Regions from separate parts of the Homo sapiens genome. Here region 2 is linked to region 1. Evidence: fine-mapped expression QTL. A gene starts in region 1. The other region holds a variant in brackets. All regions are shown on one strand. Distances are between the middles of the regions.

Region 1 (4,000 bases):
AAATACGTATTATTACTACATATTTTAAGGAAACTGAAGCTCAGATTGCTTCAAGTATCTTCCCAGAGTCACAATTATTAAGTAGTGGGTCTCAGATTTGAACTCTTTATTTGACCCCAAAGCCTATTAACCACTGAGTCAGCAGAGAGCCCATCAATATGTTTTGTGGAATTGAATTTATTAAATGGATCAAATTTGTGAAGCAAAATATCTGCAATAACTTCCTACTGCTCTAGAGGGAGCTATAGAATTGGAAACCAAATGAGAGTCTAAAATTTCTGGACCTGGAAATCTTTTAGGAAACACATCTACTGCCAGCCCCTTTTAGGGGAAGAAGTCTAACCTTAAGGCAGAGAGAGAGAAACTCGAGTCAGGAATTGATATTCATCCTTATAAAGCCCTGGCTGGCAGGAATCACTTTATAAGAAAGCACATCAGCAGGTCACGATGGCCCAGGCCTGTAATCTTAGCCTCACTTTGGGAGGCTGAGGCAGGAGGATCACCTGAGGTCAGGAGTTGGAGACAAGCCTGGGTAACATGGTGAGACCTCATCTCTACTAAAAAAAAAAATAATAATACAAAAATTAGCCAGGCGTGGTGGTGCGTCCCTGCAGTCCCAGCTATTTGGGATGCTGAGGCATGAGAATCACTTGAACCCTGGAAGCGGAGGTTGCAGTGAGCTGAGATGGTGCCACTGCACTCCAGCCTGAGCAAGAGAGTGAGACTCTGTCCTAAAAAAAAAAAAAAAAAAAAAAGAAAGAAAGAAAGTATGTATCTTCCTCCTTCAGTTCACTGTGCACATTCTCAAAGAGCAGAGAAAAGGCAAAGAGCTATGAAGTCCATGGAAGCTTGCATAAGAAATCCTTAATTTTTACCAGAGATTTTTTTTTCCTGAGAAGTTTTGTGTTGTAAATTTTTGAAATCATAGTTAAGATATCTAAGGAGAGTTCATTTGTTGCTTTTCAACCTTTATTCCTTCAAAGTAATTTTTAAACTTTGATGGGCAGTTTTTATGAAGAATTAACTTTGAGAGCAGAAAAATACAGTTCATCCACAGAGACAAACTATATAGCACAGCCAGCTTAAACCTAAGAGCAAGACACACTCCTGCTTCACGAGTCAAGCCATTTGCACATAAGAAGGCAAGATTCTGAACTTTCTGACTTCTTGGAGCTTCCCAGAGTTGAAAGAAATTTTAAGCCATTTAATTCACTCCTTTCCAACCTCTGCCTGAACATCTGAAGTAATGGGAAACTCACTATCACACAAACAATTTTTTTACTATTATGGAAAAGTGTCTATTTTCACTGACTTGGCCTTAAAGTAATAAGAATATAGTAGGTTTAGGCAATAGTGTTTATTTTTGCCCTAGAAATTATAAACAAAATGCTTATAGCCCTGTTTGCTTCAATAGCTAAGCACAGAGATGAGTAGCAGCAAACCTAAAGGTCCTATGATAGAGGAAATTAGAAACTGATCTTAATGATTAATATAATGAAATTAAACTTTATAAGAAGTGGAAACTAGTGGAAATGGATGATAACTCAGGATTCAAGGGCCCCTGAAAAACCCTTAGTGAGTTTTTCAAGCTTTCATGTAGTAAATAACCATTTTCTTTTGTTTGACAATCAGGAAAACACTAAGTTCAGAAGAACATAACTTCCTTTATTTTAGCTCTGAAGAGGTCTTAAAGGAAGAATTCAATTAAAAATGTTTACTATCTAAGTATCAACTCTGCCTTAAATATAAAATAATCAAATGTGAAGGTATTGTAAGCAAACCAAGTTATACATAATAATTTTTAAATCTAAAATAAAATGATTACATTGATAATGAAAGTAAATTGTATATAGTATATAGTTTATTTTTTCTCAAAATGTTTTGGTGGATTTCATTACTTTCCTACCAGCTTCTCTAGTATAAATTATCAGTTATTCCAAGGCTTGGAGAGAGTATAGTAGCTACCAGCTGTCACAAGTTAAATACTTCCCTTCATGAATTTCCTTTTGTGCTCCTAAATCCATATCCTCTTCTATGATCCTGTTTTCCACACTATTCCTAGAAGCCCTGCTAAGTTAAAAAAAAAAAGGGTCACTCACCTCCATGAAGCTTCAGCCCACCAAGGGGCAGAGGCAGGCACTTGAATCAGAGCTCAGCAGGCCCAGGATGGCTGCAGACTGGGAGTCAGGGACCTTTTAGTTTTCAAGGAATGGGCTCAGAGCATGATGGAAGAAAGAAAAGTTCAGGAGCTGGAGAGAAGCAGCAAGGCCAGAGTGAGGTCTGGCAGATTCCGTGACAGTTTGTCAGTTAACTTTGATCATCATTTGCTTAAGAGAAAGAGAAACCCTCATTAGAATACCCTACCTGCCCAACTTTTCTTTTGTAGGAGACAAGGGCAGCTCATTTAGATTCGAGTTAGTGGTCTAATCTTAAGGTTCATAGCTCCCCATTTCTGGACTAAGGATGCTCTATGAAAGAGGAAATACACGTCAGCAGCAGCCTATATTAAGCCTAACTCATGAAAAATAACCACCTCACCCCTGTTCATGATCCCATCACACCATCAAGACACCAGCTGAGTGGCTTTAATAGAGAGCTAGTTCACCTCTCATATTCCAATGAAGCAGCCCTGATTTTATCTCTGAGACAGTAACACAGGCCTGGGAAACACCAGGCCCTAAGAAAGCAGGATGAAAAAAGCTTCATTTCATACAGCTTTCTTCAGCAGTTTTAGCTCGCAGAGAGATGTACCAACACTGTGCTCCTGAGTGACTTATAAAGAGCCACCACAGAGCCAAACAGTTTTTCTTACAGTAGTTCCTCTAACTCAATATGATTTCTTGCACGTCTAGCTCCTGCCTAGCTGTCCAGACTTAATGACCACAGCTCTTTCCCCAGTGTTTGGGATCGCCCAAATATGTCACGCTTCTGCAGCTTTGTATATGTTGTCCCTTCGGATGGGAGTTTCCCTTCCCCCACACCCCCGTCATTATCTCTTTACTAAACTCTTCCCTAACCACCCCCTCATCCCCAAACCAAGCTTTACCCACTTCCCTGTCTCTTGTAGAAGATATTTTGCTGGCTCTATACCAGAGGTTACCAACCTCAGCCCTATTGATATTTTGGGCCTGCTAAGTCTTACGTTAGAGGGGCTGTCCTGTGAATTTTAGGATATTTAGCAGTGTCCCTGGCGTTTACACACTAGATGCCTGTAGCCACCCCCCCCCCACCAAACCCAGTCATAACAAAAATGTCTCCAGTCATTGCCAAATGTCTCCTGGGGGCAGGGGTTGGAATCACTCCCCAGTTGAGAAACACAGCTTTACTCCCTTCCTTCCTTCCTTCCTTCCTTCCTTCCTTCCTTCCTTCTTTCCTTCCTTCCTTCCTTCCTTCCTTCTTTCCTCTTTCTTTTTTTCTTTCTCTTTCTTTCTTTCTCTCTCTTTCTGTTTTCTTTCTCCCTTTCTTTCTCTCTCTGTTTCTTTCTCTTTCTTCCTTTCTTTTTCCTCTTTCTTTCTCTCTTGCTCTCTTTCTTTCTTTCTCCCTTTCTTTCTCTTTCTCTTTCTTTCCTTCTTTTCTTTTCTTTTTTCTTTTCTTTCTGACAGGGTCTCACTATGTTGCCTAGGCTGATCTCAAATTTCTGAGCTCAAGCTGTCCTCCCACCTCAGCCTCACAAAGTGCTAGGATTACAGGTGTGAGCAACACCACGCCTGGCCTAGTTTTACACATTTCTATAGCACCCTAGATCTTTGTACACGTGGCTTTAACAGAGTGTATTCTAATTGTTTGATTGCATGTCTGCCCCTCCACTAAGTTGTGAACAAACCACAGGATAGGTAGTACTGTATCTTGCTCACCTTGGCAATACATGGCATTTGTTAGATCAAAACCTTTGTCAGATAAATGTCTATGAAATGCTGGTGATCACTTAGTCAAAAAAGTAATTTTGTTTCATCTTGATTGTTTTTGTTGTTGGCTAAAACATTTGACAATGCTTAGTATA
Region 2 (4,532 bases), 64 kb before region 1:
ATTTACACCATGGAAATTGGCACATGATACACATCAAGGCTTCTCACCTCTAATTAAAATCTTTCCTGCATCTCAGTGGAAAGCCAGTTGTGAGACATTTGTCAGTGCATCACTGCCTGTACCTTCTGCTTCCTGTTTGGTAATTCTGCTTTGACAAAATTGGTCATTCTTTCTGTTTACCACTCTCTGGTGCATGCACATTTTTGTATCCCCAGAAAGGGACTTTCTATACTTCTAGTGTTCCCTGATTTTGCACTGGAGTCAGCAGATGACAACAATTTTTCTCTTTGCCAAAACCTAAAAGAAGGACCCCACTTCCCTGCTTGGTGAGAGGGTTTTCCTTGTTCATGGTTTTCTGTCATTGAGGCTAAACAAGCAGGAGCCATTATAACTTGTGATAAGAAACCATAAAAAGTACAGGTGATTTAGGATAAATGCATCTGACAGGGGTGTCAAGCAGGAGTCAGCAACTTTCTCTAAAAGGGCCAGATAGTACATACTTTAGGCTTTGCAAAAGACACAAAATGATATTATGTAGGTGCTTATATAACTGTTTAAAACATAACCATGTAAAACTATTCTTAGCTTATCAACTATGAATAAACAGGCATTGGTCTATGAATAAACTGTTTGGCATTGGTCTGTGGGCTGCAGTTTTCTGATTGCAGTGGAAGTCTGACTGTTGTGGAAGACTGACCTGGGGGATGAGCAGTAAGGCAAGGTGGTCAGGTAGGAGGGTGGTAGATAAAAAAGACCAGGACAAAGTCTTGGATGGTCACAGTGGGGAAGAAGGAAGGAGGAGGAAGAAACTAGAGGGAACTTAAATATCTGATTGGATATGATGGATAAGTGAAAGATGAAGCAAATGTGATCTGGAGAGCTGGCTGCAATTTGTAACGTTGTCTTTGGGATTCACAAACATATTAGGATATTAAAAGCTTTGAAAATTCCTGCAGCAAGTAAATCTGTCTGCTCAGTCCAGCATTTCTCAAAGTTATTTATATATTGTACCCTTCATTCATGGACTACCTACTAATGCCCCCAGTGAAGTAACGTATCATGGAATGTACTTTAGGTTTCATGGGCTTGCTCTATAGTTGCGTAATCCATGTTGTAAGAGTGTGTGTTCCTTGAAAAGAGAGTTAACAAATTTACCATTTGTGTGCGTGTTTGTGGGGGAGGGTTATGAAATATGAAATACAACTCCTGTGGAAGGTGGTATATTACAAATTAATGTAATCTGAATGGCTGGAAGAATTACGCAGAGATTCAACAGGCCAGATTGGTTTAATAGTTTTTAAGTTATGGATATAATTAATGAAAATTGAGAGTGCTAATAGTTGTTTTTAAACTATTTTAAACTAAAAACAACTACAGTTTTGTCTTGTTTTTTAATTATACTTCAGGTTTTAGGGTACATGTGCACAACGTGCAGGTTTGTTACATATGTATACATGTGCCATGTTGGTGTGCTGCACCCATTAACTCGTCATTTAGCATTAGGTGTATCTCTTAATGCTATCTATCCCTCCCCACTCCCCCCATCCCACAACGGGCCCCGGTGTGTGATGTTCCCCTTCCTGTGTCCATGTGTTCTGATTGTTCAATTCCCACCTATGAGTGAAAACATGCGGTGTTTGGTTTTTTTGTCCTTGTGATAATTTGCGGAGAATGAAAAAACAGTAAATTCACGTGGCCCTTTAAAACCTTCATTTTCTTTTCTTTTTTTATTTTTCTTTTATTCTCTCTCTCTTTTTTAAAATTTTAAGTTCCAGGGTACATGTGCAGGATGTGCAGTTTTGTGACATAGGTAAACGTGGACCATGGTGGTCTGCTGCACCTATCAACCCATCACCTACGTATTAAACCCAACATATATTAGCTATTTTTCCTAATGCTCTCTCTCCCCCTTCCCTCTCCCCCACAGGCCCCAGTGTGTGTTGTTCCCTTCCCTGTGTCTATGTTAAAACCTTCATTTTCAATCTTTTCAGTATGGTTCTTTTATTTATCTGTCTTTGAATCCTCCTTAACAAAATTAATTGTTCCTTTTTTATTTATTTATTTTATTATTATTATTATT[A/T]TTTTTTTAGATGGAATCTCGCTCTGTCGCCCAGGCTGCAGTGCAGTGGCACAATCTCGGCTCGCTGCAAGCTCCGCCTCCCGGGTTCACGCCATTCTCCCGCCTCAGCCTCCCGAGTAGCTGGGACTACAGGCGCCCGCCACCACGCCCAGCTAATTTTTTGTATTTTTTAGTAGAGGCGAGGTTTTACCATGTTAGTCAGGATGGTCTCGATCTCCTGACCTTGTGATCCACCTGCCTTGGCCTCCCAAAGTGCTGGGATTACAGGCGTAAGTCACCGCACCCAGCCCATTTTTTTGTTTCAAAAAAATTTTTTTTCTAAGATACTTTTGTTATAGCATACTCCTTTCTTTTTAAAAAATCCACAGCAATTTTTATATATCTCTTTTAGCACTTCAGATTGCATAGGGTTTATCTGGGTATTCTCATGGTTTGTTGGACTAAATTAGTAGAAGACACTTATATTTCTTTTCCCAGTCCTCAGCAGAATGCCAGACATATCATATGTTCTCTTGGATTAATAAATTAATAAAAGTTTTGGGAAAGTGACCATTCCAACCTATATCTGAAATACAAATAAAGTTAGATCCTGTATCCATCAAGGTCCAATCAGGAAAACAGAAACCATTCCAGTTATTTTAACAGGGATAATTTAATATAGGGAATCGAATTGCTAAACAGGTATTTAGAAAACTATAACTCCAGAAAGATATGCAAACTACAGGAAATATCTTCCACCGTTAGAACAGGGGAGCAAAGGGTAGAGTGGATTAGTTGAACCTAGAAGCTTGGATGAAGAGCCCCATAAAGTTGAGAACAAGACCACGGAGCAGGAGGTGCCACCTGGCTGGTGCTGGTGTCTCTGCAGGGACTCCAATGAGGCTGATTCTGGAAATTAGAAAAAAAAAAAAAAAGACCTAGACCCAAATGCTGCTGCTAGGGTGAAGAACTATTGCTGAGGGGATGTTGACAGACACAGAAAGCAAAGAGCAAGGGGCAAATCCCTTTGCCATCCTCTAGGTTTGCAGTCTTCCTCTAATACCCTTTATTGGCAGAGCCTAACAGGAAACCAGATGGCAAAGGATAAATTTTATTTGTGGAGTCCAGCCTCAAAATCATGTAACAGAGTAACAGGTGAGTGGGTGGTGCTAAGATACAGTAGCTTAATAACCAGCCTAGTTCCCAACCTACATGTATAGTCAATTTCCAAGTGGCCTGACTCTGGATGACTCAAGAGGGCTTTTCCTCCTCCCAAGAGCTATTATAGTCACAGGTATATTTTTGAATCTTTCCTTTTTTTCTTAGACAGCAGAAGCTGTTCATTTTAGTAGAGAATATCATGGTTGTAATTGCATTTCTCTTATAACTCAGAAAGGGTTAAATAAAGAGAAAAGATATTTTGGCAAAGAGCAAAACTATTTGGCAACTTGTTCTAAAGGGTTTTTCAGCGTCCCTAGATTCAGCTGTTTCTAATCCTGTGATTATATGCTTCAATTTCCCATTTTAAGTACCAGAGATTAAGTGGTAACTCCTTTATTGCTGATGGCGGTGCTTAGTGGACAGCTGGGGGATGACAGGGCTGTGTGCTGAATCCAGATGCACAAGAAACAACAGGAAAGGGGCACTCTGACCGTCCAATGGCCCTGTCTCCTGAGGGGGGGTAAGGTGAGGCTTCTGTTTAGATGTCTCAGTGGTCACTGCAGAATCAGCTTTTTCTTTTCTTTTTCTTTTCTTTTTTTTTTTTTTAACAGATTAAACAGTTCCAGTGTGGAAGTCTGACTTAGGGCAATGTGTGTAGTGTGAGGAAAAAGGATGACAGCTGGTTTTGAATCCAGCTCAGTCACTTGCCAACTGGGTGGCCCTGAGTAGTCACTTCACTCAACTCTTCACTTTATCATTGATAATAACTACCTGTCCTGTCCTCTTATTTGGCTCACTTTGAGGATCAAAAGAGATATGACTAAATATGAAAACATATTGCAAAGAGTAAAATGAAATAAAAACAAGGAATCGATCATGATGGTGTTGGGCTATTTCAGTTTGCTTGGTTTTTGACTCAGAAGCATGAGAGAAATACATTATCCCCAACAATTCCTTTCTGTTATAAAAAAGTTACAGTGTGTACCTTTCTGGGCTTGTGTTGTGTATTTACTTCCACATAAATGTTTATCTCTAAAGTTATCAATAAAGCTCCCAGTGTGGAAGTGAAAATAAACCCAGAAAAAATATCTTTGTATTCCCAGGCCAATTCAGTTTTCATTATTTATTATATTCAGTTTTTCTTGAGGCCAAAATGGAGTAGAAATCTCTAAAAAATTTAGTTTGAATCTAGAGTCAACTAATAATAATACTAGTTAAAGCAGTAATAGCATTTATTACATGCTTGTGTGCTGGAAACTTTTAAGCATCTATACTGTGTTGCCTCCTTAAAATAACCCTATGAGGTAGATTT

Evidence for each region. PIP is the estimated chance that this variant, and not a neighbour inherited with it, causes the effect.
Region 2: its variant is fine-mapped to the expression of TRIM69 in whole blood (INTERVAL, PIP above 0.99).

The regions. Positions count from the first base shown.
Region 1 is chr15:44,734,810-44,738,809 of GRCh38, reverse strand. It overlaps TRIM69 (tripartite motif containing 69), which reads right to left and starts at 2,282. Exons shown (of 7, transcript NM_182985.5): 1 at 2,100-2,282. The coding sequence starts at 2,105.
Region 2 is chr15:44,798,129-44,802,660 of GRCh38, reverse strand. No RefSeq gene overlaps it. Among named protein-coding and RNA genes, the nearest start is that of TRIM69, 64 kb to the right of the region's middle. The variant A/T (reference allele first, on the strand shown) is at 2,081.